3 linked regions of the Homo sapiens genome follow. The protein of the gene in region 1 purifies or fractionates together with the protein of each later gene. This does not show direct contact. Each region holds a gene or a part of one and is shown in the gene's direction. Other genes may lie near its edges. The genes, in order: MGARP, FIRRM and ZER1.

The links.
Region 2: the proteins of MGARP (region 1) and FIRRM purify together in Homo sapiens (co-immunoprecipitation; 2 studies listed by BioGRID and IntAct, with this or other methods). This does not show direct contact.
Region 3: the proteins of MGARP (region 1) and ZER1 purify together in Homo sapiens (co-immunoprecipitation; 2 studies listed by BioGRID and IntAct, with this or other methods). This does not show direct contact.

What each region holds. Positions count from the first base shown.
Region 1 is NC_000004.12:139,273,607-139,277,359, reverse strand, and holds part of MGARP (protein MGARP), read left to right. Parts: intron 1-1,967; coding exon 1,968-2,071; intron 2,072-3,753. UniProt on the Homo sapiens protein: Plays a role in the trafficking of mitochondria along microtubules. Regulates the kinesin-mediated axonal transport of mitochondria to nerve terminals along microtubules during hypoxia.
Region 2 is NC_000001.11:169,805,019-169,808,771, forward strand, and holds part of FIRRM (FIGNL1-interacting regulator of recombination and mitosis), read left to right. Parts: intron 1-985; coding exon 986-1,070; intron 1,071-2,772; coding exon 2,773-2,911; intron 2,912-3,753. UniProt on the Homo sapiens protein: Regulates PLK1 kinase activity at kinetochores and promotes faithful chromosome segregation in prometaphase by bridging kinase and phosphatase activities.
Region 3 is NC_000009.12:128,751,328-128,755,080, reverse strand, and holds part of ZER1 (protein zer-1 homolog), read left to right. Parts: intron 1-1,121; coding exon 1,122-1,272; intron 1,273-1,480; coding exon 1,481-1,917; intron 1,918-2,231; coding exon 2,232-2,408; intron 2,409-3,553; coding exon 3,554-3,668; intron 3,669-3,753. UniProt on the Homo sapiens protein: Serves as substrate adapter subunit in the E3 ubiquitin ligase complex ZYG11B-CUL2-Elongin BC. Acts to target substrates bearing N-terminal degrons for proteasomal degradation with the first four residues of substrates being the key recognition elements.

The sequences.
Region 1 (3,753 bases):
AGAAGGAAAAAAATTTTTTTCCAAGAAACGGCCATTTATATCCAAACTAAGAACATAAACAGGAAATCGTTGTGATTTTGCTACTATGAAGGTTTGTAAGCATGCCTTAAGATTCGCCCTGTGCAAATCATAGCTTTCCACTAGTCCCTGCACCCCTATACTTTATGTTAGGCCACATCAAATTGCAGGTTGGACATGCTTAATCCAAAAATCTAAAACACAAAATGTTCCAAAATTAGAAACTTTCTGAGCACTGACATGATGCCACAAGTAGAAAATTTCACATGTAAGTACTTAACACAAACTTTGTTTCAAGCACAAAATTATTCAAAATATTGTATGAAATTACCTTCAGGCTATGTGTGTAAGGTGTATACGAAACATAAATGAATTTTTTGTTTAGACTTCAGTCCCATCCCCAAGATATCTCATTATGTGTATGCATATATTCCAAAATAAAGAATATCCAAAACCCAAAACACTTCTGGTCCCAAGCATTTTATTTTATTTTAATTATTTTTTTGGAACAGAACCTTTCTCTGTTGCCCAGGCTGGAGAGCAGTGGTACAATCACAGCTCACTGCAGGACTCAAGTGATCCTCCTGCCTCAGCCTCCCAAAGTAGCTGGGACTACAGGCACATACCACCACTCTCAGCTAATATTATAAAATTTTTTTGTAGAGATGGGGTTCACCACATTGCCCAGGCTGGTCTTGAAATCCTGGGCTCAAGTGATCCTCCCACCTCTGCCTCCCAAAATGTTGGGATTACAGGCATAAGCTACTGCACCCACTGCTAGCATTTTAGATAAGGGATATTCATCCTGTACTTTGTACCTTCTGGGTCACGAATCTCTCATGCTTTTATACGTTACACCTTCTGCCTCCAGTGCCATTCCTCTTTCCCTTATTTTCCTTCAAAACTCAGGTCTCTTCTATTATGACAACTACCTTGGCCAGCTAGTTGAGTTTTACTCTGCCTGTAGCTTGGCTTAACACTTATTACATTTGTCATACTGTATCACAATTATTTGTATGTTCATACCCTCCTTCTAGACTGTGAATGGCTTGAGACTAGGGACCTTATCTGTCTTGTTCACGGTTATATTCTTAATGCTTCTAACAATTCCAAATACGTAGTAGATGCTCAGCTGTGTTAGTTGAAAGAATACATAAATGTGTTTATGTCTTTATTTTTAAAATAAAGAATTTGAGTTGTATATACTTTAAGCTCCTTCCGACTTTAAGTTTATTGTAAAAATTTCAATTCCAGGGCATTATAGGATATGCAAATGTTAGTACTACAAAATAAATGTTTAAATATAATAATATAGTACCTTTATCTGTTTCTATTAGTTTATACAGAATTGTACTTCTATTTCAGATACAACCTTTCTGCAACATTTGGCTTAAAAACGTTTTATCTGCCCATATTTGCTTTATAAGAGAAAAATTGAGATTTCTTTCTATACCTACATGTGTATTATAGATTTATAGAAATATGATGGATTTCAACATAAATGCTTGATTTAACATATAAATACAAATTGTATTACATTTTAGGTATAAACATACTGAATTCATTTTTTAAAAAATAATATTTTCACTGAATCCTGTAGTGGAGTACATATAGTACATGGCTTTCTCTTGCTAATGTGCACTTCATTTGGCTGTTAAAATTTTTTAGTGCTTTTGTCATTTCTCCTTACCCACACCTGCACCCCTTCCAAGAAGGCATGATGCTCAGCATCAAGATGACAGGTTTCATGAGTGTTTATCAAATTAGATTGGGAGACTGTCAAGTGGAATTATTACCCAGCCTCGTAATACTGTATTCCCTTAAGCTAAAATCACTTGATGTTAATAGATTCTAGGTTCACTGAGTAGAAAAATTTTGAAAGATGTAATTATTTAAAATAGTTTTGCTCAACTAGTGAAGCTAACTGTGTTTAAACATTTTTTTCCTAGCATCTCTGCGCCGGATGTCATCTAACAGATTCCCTGGATCATCTGGATCAAATATGATTTATTATCTGGTTGTAGGCGTCACAGTCAGTGCTGGTGGATATTATGTAAGTGATTATATAACCACAGTGCTCAAGAATTCATGTATTTTACAACTCATGGTAAAGCTCAAAGCAACGTCAAGATCAGGACATGAGATTAATTAAATATACAACATAGCAATAGATTTAAGTGTCATTAAGCATACACATCTGAAAAATAGGTGGCAATCATTAGAAATACAGGGTTTTCATAAGAATATATTAGCTAGACTATTATGAAGGTTTTTCTTTTTTAGTTTATTTTTAAGTTTTATTTCATTCGAACCTCAGCTTTCTAAATTATGAAGATTTTTGTATTTGTAAAGTCAGCATTTCTTAATACCATTAATATGGATGATTTTCAGTAAAAATAATTTTATTATAAATGCTAATAGTGATAGCTGATACTTGAGTGTTTATCATATGCCAGACTCCTGGATCATTTAATAATTACAACAAGTCTACAAGGTAGGCACTATTATTAACATTTTAAAAGAATTATTTTGAAAGATTAACTTAAAAATTAATATAGGAGCTGGGTGCAGTGGCTCACGCCTGTAATCCCAGCACTTTGGGAGGCTGAGGCAGGTGGATCACCTAAGGTCAGGAGTTCGAGGCCTGCCTGGCCAACATGAGGAAACCCCATCTCTACTAAAAATGCAGAAATTAGCCAGCATGGTGGTGTGTGCCTGTAATCCCAGCTACTTGGGAGGCTGAAGCAAGAGAATCTCTTGAACCTAGGAGGCTGAGGTTGCAGTGAGCCAAGATCACATCATGGCACTCCAGTGTGGGCAACAGAGTGAGACTCTGTTTCCAAAAAAAATTTAAAAAAATTAATATAACTATTAAAAAAATTAATAGATCTTTTTTTAGAGCAGTTTTAGGTTTACAAAATAATGAGCAGAAAGTACAGAAACTTCCATATAACCCCTCACACCCCCTCCTCCTTTCCCCTATTAAAATCTTGCACTGATGTGGAACATTTGTTAAAACTGACAAGCCAATATTGATATATTATTATTAACTAAAGTCCAGGGTTTACATTAGGATCCACTCTTTGCGTTGTATGTTCTGTTTTTACAAATATATTACAATATCATCCAGAATAAATTATAGTATCATACAGAGTCGTTTCATCACCCTAAAAATCCCTCTACTCCACCTACTCATTTCTCCCTCTCTCCTCCCAATCTTTTTACTGTCTCCATAATTTTTGTTAGTTTTAAATTTTCACACAGTTTTATTATTTGAAAAATTCATATTTGTTCATAAGTTTCTAAAAAATGCAACATAGACATATATAAAGTGAAAAGCATATTTTCCTTCCCAGTCCCCATGTCCATTCCCTCCAGGTAAACCCTGTAAGACAAAGGTTTTAATAGTGAGATTTTGGGACTAAAATGACAGACATTTTTTAGTTAAGTAAGTTAAGACTTGAGTCATTCACCATTTTGTCATAAACTTTCTAAATCAAAATATAATCTTTATTAAGAATAAAAGTAGGCCAGTCATGGTGGCTCACGCCTGTAATCTCAGCACTTTGGGAGGTCAAGGTGGGCAGATCACCTGAGGTCAGGAGTTCAAGACCAGCCTGGCCAACATGGTGAAGCCTCATCTGTGCTAAAATACAAAAATGAGCCAGGCATGGTGGCAGGTGCCTGTAATCATAGCTACTCAGGAGGCTGAGGCAGGAGAATCACTTGAACCCA
Region 2 (3,753 bases), on another chromosome or scaffold:
CACACTTCATTGATTTTATCACTCATTAATGGATTATGAACAAGAGTTTGAAAAACAATATAAAGGCAAAGTTTGCATTCAAAACTTTGGTATAAAGAGAGTAAGTTGGTTTTGTGCAGTGTATCAGGCACCTGTTGCTCTGCAACACACCACCTCAAAATCTATTTATTCACTATTTATTTATTCATGATTCTGTGAGTCTGCAGTTTAGGGTGGGATGTCCTGAGACAACTTTCTCTGATCCACCTGGGGCACTAGCTCACCCATGTGACTTCAGTGACTTCATTCACATCTGGCTGTTGGCAGAGGCAGAAGTACTTGAGAAAGCCATGTGCATCATCCAGCAGGTTCACCCTATCTCAGATACCTGATGCCAGTGGTTTCAGGGTTTCTAAGAGTAGCAAAAGTGTGAGCAGGTCGCTGTGTGCTAGCACTTTTCAAGTTTCTGCTTGCCTTAATTTTATTATTGTCCCCCGGGCCACAGCAGGTCATAGCGTTTAGCCCAGAGTCATTGTAGAAAAGTGTGGATTCACAAAGGGCAGTCATTGTGGCCATTTTTATAAATAATCTACCACAGACTGAGTAAAAGCCTTGCATGAATACCATGGATATTAATTTGAATTCTTCCTTTTTAGATTTTCTTTCCTTAGCAATTTGTTTTGTCATTTTGGATTAGAATTATATCTGTAGAATATTTCAGTTATAATAGGGTACAACTTTTATTCCACTGAACATCTTTAGTTTTATTTAGGTCATCTGGTAGGTATAAACTTCAGAAGTTAATATTCAATATTTATAAAAACCATTAACAAGTGTGACACTTAAATAGTTTAAATAATTCTTTTGACACAACTGTTTCCAAGTTGTGTTACGTATTTTAATTCAATCAAATGTTGAAATTGTTCAGTAGATAGTTTTAATTATAGGAGAAACTCACCCCCATGACATTTGGATGTCTTAAAAGTTCTGTTATCTTTCTTTGCAGTTATTCATTCTTTATTGGATATCTGCTCTGTTATTTCCAGTATGGACCATGCATTTCATGCCAATACTTGGAAGTTTATAATTAAGTAAGTTTGTTTGTTATTTTTTACTTTTTAGAAAATGTTTTCCATATTCCCCAATCTTAATTATTCATGATTCTTTAGATTGCATTTAAAACATTTTGTGTGAATTTAATGTTCACTGACACTGCTGTCTGATAATCCAGATATTCTACATGTAGCTCTCAAGCCAAATTGGACTTCTTTACCCTGTGGCCTCTAAAATTAAAAAAAATGTTCTTCCTAGTTAGCTAGTACTTCAGAAATAATGGGCCATGGGCCAGACTAGAACTTAACCACTTTTCTTCTGCTACTGTTGTTTAACCAGCTATCAAGTATCCTATTTCTAGGATTAGATAAATTGATAACTATAATTAAAACTGAATATAATCTTTTCATTAGGTACTTTTAAGTTGTTCACACTTAATTCCATTTGTACAGTAATTTTAACTTTCTGAAACTGAAGCATTTTAAAGGGTCACCAGGGATAGTGCCTGTAGCATTCATCAGATTCTTAGGGGTGAGAGGAGATGTGGTTGAGATGTAAAAATGGTTAAGAATATCTACTTTATACACATACATAAAACATTAAAGGTCAGTGTATTTTCAGGTCTTAGGTACTTTTCTTGTACTACCAGGACATTAAGTTGCCATTCAGTGGTTAAGAGTGTTGCCTGGGAGCTGTATCACATGTGCTTAAATCCATTCTTGAAATCATTTACTCCTTCTGAGCCCTTGGGCTATTTGGTTAATTTCTCTGAACGTTAGTTTGCTCATCTGAAAATGGAAATAATAATAGCAACTTCTTGACAGGGTTATAGTGAGAATTGAGTTCATCACTGTGAAATGCTTAGAAATGTGCATGACACATAGTTAATACTCAAGGAATTAGCCACATCACTATCATCATCACTGATTATCTTCCACTCTTACCCTCTTCCAGTTCATTTTCTGCCCAGCAGAATGATCTTTTAAAAAGTAAATCAGATCATGTTACTCTATTGCTTGAAGTCTATCCCATTTGATTAAGAATAACAACCTAATCCTCTGTGGATGCTGCCTCCTTCACCAGCCTGTCTCATGCTGCTCTCCCTACTCTTAGTTCCTCAAACATACCAAACTCTCCTGTCCCAGAGTCTTTTCGTGGTTTTTCCATCTGCCTAGGATGCTTCTCTCTCCTATTTTGTGTACCTTGCTAACTCCTGCTTACTGTCTTTCAGTTCTCAGCTTAAGAGTTATATCTTCATGATAACATTCTTTGATATCCTTACCCTAAGATTAAGTTAGATTGATATCCTTACCCTAAGAATAAGTTAGATTAGGTCTCTCTATTGTAGCACCTTAGACTCTGTCATTTGACAAATCACAGCCCTAATTAATTATTCTTAAAATTATTTAACATTCTCTCTCATGCTAGACCACAAGTTTCATGCAGGTAAGGCGGAGATTGTGTCCATTTGTTTGACCCCTTTGTCTCCAGGGCCTGGTAGAATGCCTCATACATAGTAAGAATTCAATTAATATTTTACACAGAGAAAAAATTAGCAACTTATTTAAACAAATATAACTGCTTCAGAGGTAAACTGGGCACATCTTAGTTATATTATGTGATATATGATGCTTTTTGATTGTTTTTTTAAATGTTCTACAAGGTAGATATTGTTAGAGGTCCTAAGTTACTTGATGTGTTACTTGTGGTGATTGTATTCTTTTCTTTTTATTCATTTAGGCAGAGCCTTAAGCACCAGTCCATAATAAAAAGCCAGTTGAAACACAAAGATATAATTACTAGCTTGTGTGAAGACATTCTTTTCTCCTTCCATTCTTGTTTACAGTTAGCTGAGCAGATGACACAGTCAGATGCACAGGTAAAATTTGGGCTAATAGCATTTTAAACAGCAACTCTTATTTTCTTTGGCAGTTAGTAAATCTCATTTGAATGTCTGGGTCAGTCTATTTAAGAGGATTTTAATTTATTTCATTTGGGTGTTTTTTTTTGATCTGTGGGATTATTTATATCCCATAATTACTTTTCACCCAGAGCATTGTATTAGATTCCTAACTGCTGTCATTGCCTCTGGGGTCTGCCTGGCTCCCTCTTTGCTTGGTAACTGGTTGGTCACAGCATTCTTCTCAGAATCCTTTCATTCTTTTCTGCATGAGAACAAAAATTCTTTTGTTCATATTTGTATAAGATCTGATATAGCTGCAATCAATCTTGCATTTTTTCTTCACCAACGCATTGCGACCTTTAGGGATACAAGTATGTTTGTGCATGTATATGTATGTATCAGTCTTTTAAATTTGATATAGTCATACATTTGTTTTTATTTTGAAAAGTTAGAGTGTTGAATTGGTATCCCATTTATGAAACATTATATTCTAAAAATTTGTAGTACGATTATTGGGAATTATAACTCATTTTCCTGTAACACTGTTATACATAGTACCTTTTGCTTTCAGACTAGCCCTCAATTTTATTTAACTATAGTAGTCCTAAATTATAAGATTAATAGTACTCAGGACCTAACAGTTATATGTCATTTGTTTTTTTTTTTTTTGAGATGGCGTCTCACTCTGTCACCCAAGCTGGAGTGCAGTGGTATGACCTTGGCTCACTGCAGCCTCTGCCTCACGGGTTCAAGGGATCGTTCTGCCTTAGCCTCCTGAGTAGCTGGGATTATAGGCGCCTGCCACCACGCCTGGCTAA
Region 3 (3,753 bases), on another chromosome or scaffold:
GCATATAAATGAAGGAATTAAGTGTTGCCCCACACGTGTATGTACATTCACATGCACATACCTGTGCTTGTGAATTCAGTGAGCATGGCCACATATGCATGTACATGCCGGTGCCAGAATAACGGATCCATGATCAGGGAGTGAATCATCCAGAAAATCTGAATGGCCCTCCGAGGGCCTCCCCACTCCTAGGGGCTCCTAGAAGCATGCTATGCAGTCACTGAATGCTGGGAGTTCAATCTACAGGCCCAGATGGTGGCCAGGCATGGTGGCTCACACGTGTAATTCCAGCATTTTGGGAAGCCAAGACAGGAGGATCACTTGAGACCAGAAATTCAAGATCAGCCTGGGTGACATAGCGAGACCTTGTCTCTACCAAAAAAAAAAAAAGAAAAAGATTCCCAGAAGGGAAATTATTAGACAGCTGCATAGGAAACTAGAAGCCTGTGTGGGCCTGAGGACAGAGGTGGACCTGTAATAACGTCCTGAGCATTTACCGTGGGTCAGGCTTTAGGTTGGACACTTTGCAGGCCATAGTTATATCCACTTTACAGATGAAGAAACTGAGGTCTGGGAAAGTTCATTTACTTGTGTGAAGTTGCCCAGGTAGGAAGCAGCCAAGCCAAGATTTAGAGTCTAAAGCGTTTGAATCCAAAGCATTTCCCAGCAGACCAGGATTCTTGCATGAGCTGATGTCTCAACAGGGCTTCATTAAGGGCTTGTCCTGTACCCAGCTGGGAACTCTGAACTACTTGGCTTAGTTTGCCTGTTTAAAAGGGTCGCAGGAGGGGCTTAAAGAAGGTGACGAGAGTGGCCATGCCAGTGGGGCTGCTGCCCCTGCAGTGTGCGTGCGTGGAGGCTGTGTGACAGGCATGTGCACTGGGAGAGATGGCGCCTGCATCACCTAGAAGGTCTCCCAGAGAGCTGCCTTTAGATTCCTGGTTCCTGGGCACCCTTAATCTTACTGGTAGTTTAGTCAGGATCTGACCAGATACTCTTAGGAGAAGGAGGTTGCTACTTGGGGTGATCCAAGAAAGCTTCAGGGGGAGGAGGGCTTGGCTTTGAAGCGAGGATGAGAGTCCCTGTGGCCCTCTCCTGAGCCAGGCTTTTTTCTCTCCCAGGTATGTGGAGCTGGTGAACGCTGCCTGTAACTTCGAGCCACACGAGAGCTTCTTCAGCCTCTTTTCGGACCCCCGCAGCACCCGCCTCACGCGGATCCACCTCCGTGAGGACCTGGTGCAGGACCAGGACCTGGAGGCCATCCGCAAGCAGGTGAGACCTGCCCCGCCACAGCGCCAGGAGGGCCCACACCAAGCAGGGGCCAGGCTGCTCGCCTCCAGCCCAGCCATCCCCAGCCCAGCCAGTGTGCACCGTGACTGTGCACATCCCCCTTTCCAACCCACCTGTAGCCCAGGGCAAGGCCTGGGGCCGGGGGAAGGGGCAAGGGTGGTGATGATGATGGAGCTGTGCCCACTCCCAGGACCTGGTGGAGCTGTACCTGACTAACTGCGAGAAGCTGTCCGCCAAGAGCCTGCAGACACTGAGGAGCTTCAGCCACACCCTGGTGTCCTTGAGCCTCTTCGGCTGTACAAACATTTTCTATGAGGAGGAGAACCCAGGGGGCTGTGAAGATGAGTACCTCGTCAACCCCACCTGCCAGGTGCTGGTTAAGGATTTCACCTTCGAGGGCTTCAGCCGCCTCCGCTTCCTCAACTTGGGCCGCATGATTGATTGGGTCCCTGTGGAGTCCCTGCTGCGGCCGCTTAACTCCCTGGCTGCCTTGGACCTCTCAGGCATTCAGACGAGCGACGCCGCCTTCCTCACCCAGTGGAAAGACAGCCTGGTGTCCCTCGTCCTCTACAACATGGACCTGTCCGACGACCACATCCGGGTCATCGTGCAGCTGCACAAGCTGCGGTGAGCTCCTGGCCCAGAGCTCACCAGGGTGGGGTTTGGGGGGCAGGTGGGGAGGAGTAGAGGTGGGTGTTGTCACGCCCTCAGGGTTCAGGAGCGCTTGGCTAGGCAGAGGGTGGGGATGAAGACACAGTCCCATTCCTTAAACCCAGTGTTTCAGCTGGATTGGGGCTGTTTGGGGTTTCTTCCCAGAATGCCCTGGGGAAGTTGTGGCAGGAATGGGCCCTCCCCTGCTACAGACTAAAGGAGCTGGGATCTGCAAGGCAGCCCCACCCTGTACCCAGCTCCTAACCTGCACCCCCTACCCCAATCTTCAGACACCTGGACATCTCCCGAGACCGCCTCTCCAGCTACTACAAGTTCAAGCTGACTCGGGAGGTGCTGAGCCTCTTTGTGCAGAAGCTGGGGAACCTAATGTCCCTGGACATCTCTGGCCACATGATCCTAGAGAACTGCAGCATCTCCAAGATGGAAGAGGAAGCGGGGCAGACCAGGTGGGGCCCCAGCCTCCATGGCTACTGGTAGGGTGTCATTCAACAGGCATTTAGGCTGGCGCAGTGGCTCACGCCTGTAATCCCAGCACTTTGGGAAGCCAAGATGGGCGGATCACTTGAGGCCAGGAGTTAGAGACCAGCCTGGCCAACATGGTGAAACCCCATTTCTACTAAAAATACAAAATTTAGCTGGACATGGTGGCAGACACCTGTAGTCCCAGCTACTTGGGAGGCTAAGGTATGAGAATTGAAGCCGGGAGGCGGAGCCTGCAGTGAGCTGAGATCGCGCCACTGCACTCCAGCCTAGGCAACAAAGTGGGACTTTGTCTCAAAAAAAAAAAAAAAGAAAGTATTTGCCAAGTACCCCTCTGCCAAGTGCTGTGCTGGGTGCTAGAGATAAAGAAACAAATCAGGTCCTGCCCTCTTGGAGGCTGTGTGAGCTGGTGGGGACAATCAAGTCATTACAAGGGCTATGGTAGGGGCAATCCAGGGCCCCGGTGTGGCCTGAGGATCAGGAAGGAAGGAGGAGGAGGGACGCATCCTGGCTGTCCTGAAAGCTCATTCTGCCTCTGCCAGAGGAAGCGTGTTCTAGCAGAGGGAACAGCACCTGCAAAGGCCAGTAGGTGAGAGCATGAGGAGCGACAGGGGAACTACCCAACACTCAGCCTGACCAGAGCACAGTGCCATGGGGGGAAGAGGCAAGGCTGGCAGTGTCTGCCACCTATGGAGTATTGCTGGACATAGGTCGGTTCTTGGATTGGTTGGTTGAGAAGTTTGACCAAACCCTACCAGCTGTAACTGGCCACCCATAAGCCCTGGCCCCAGCCTGCTTTAATGGTGTTCAGTTGAGCTTGTCCCTTTGTGATTGTTGGTGAGACCTAAAGGTGCCATGTCCTTACTAGAATGGCAGGTGGTTTCTAAAGGTGGCTGCATTGCCCATCCTATGTGTTCCCCTACTATGTGGCTTTGCCATGCTTCCATCAGGAGGTGGTGCTTATGTCCCCTACCATTAAAAACAAAAGGAGTAGGGGATGAGGTTGGAGGGCCTAGAAGAGAAAGCAAGGAAATGCCTCACCACCCCCAGTGGGGAGGCCCAGCTCAGGCCTGGGTCCCAAGCCACTGACACCGGCACCCTCTTTCCCCAGCATTGAGCCTTCCAAGAGCAGCATCATACCTTTCCGGGCTCTGAAGAGGCCGCTGCAGTTCCTCGGGCTCTTTGAGAACTCTCTGTGCCGCCTCACGCACATTCCAGCCTACAAAGTGAGCAGTGGAAGTGGGATGGGTCTGGGCCAGGGAGCCTTGGGAGAGAGAAGGAGCTGGATTCTGGGGCTGGAGACTGAGCTGG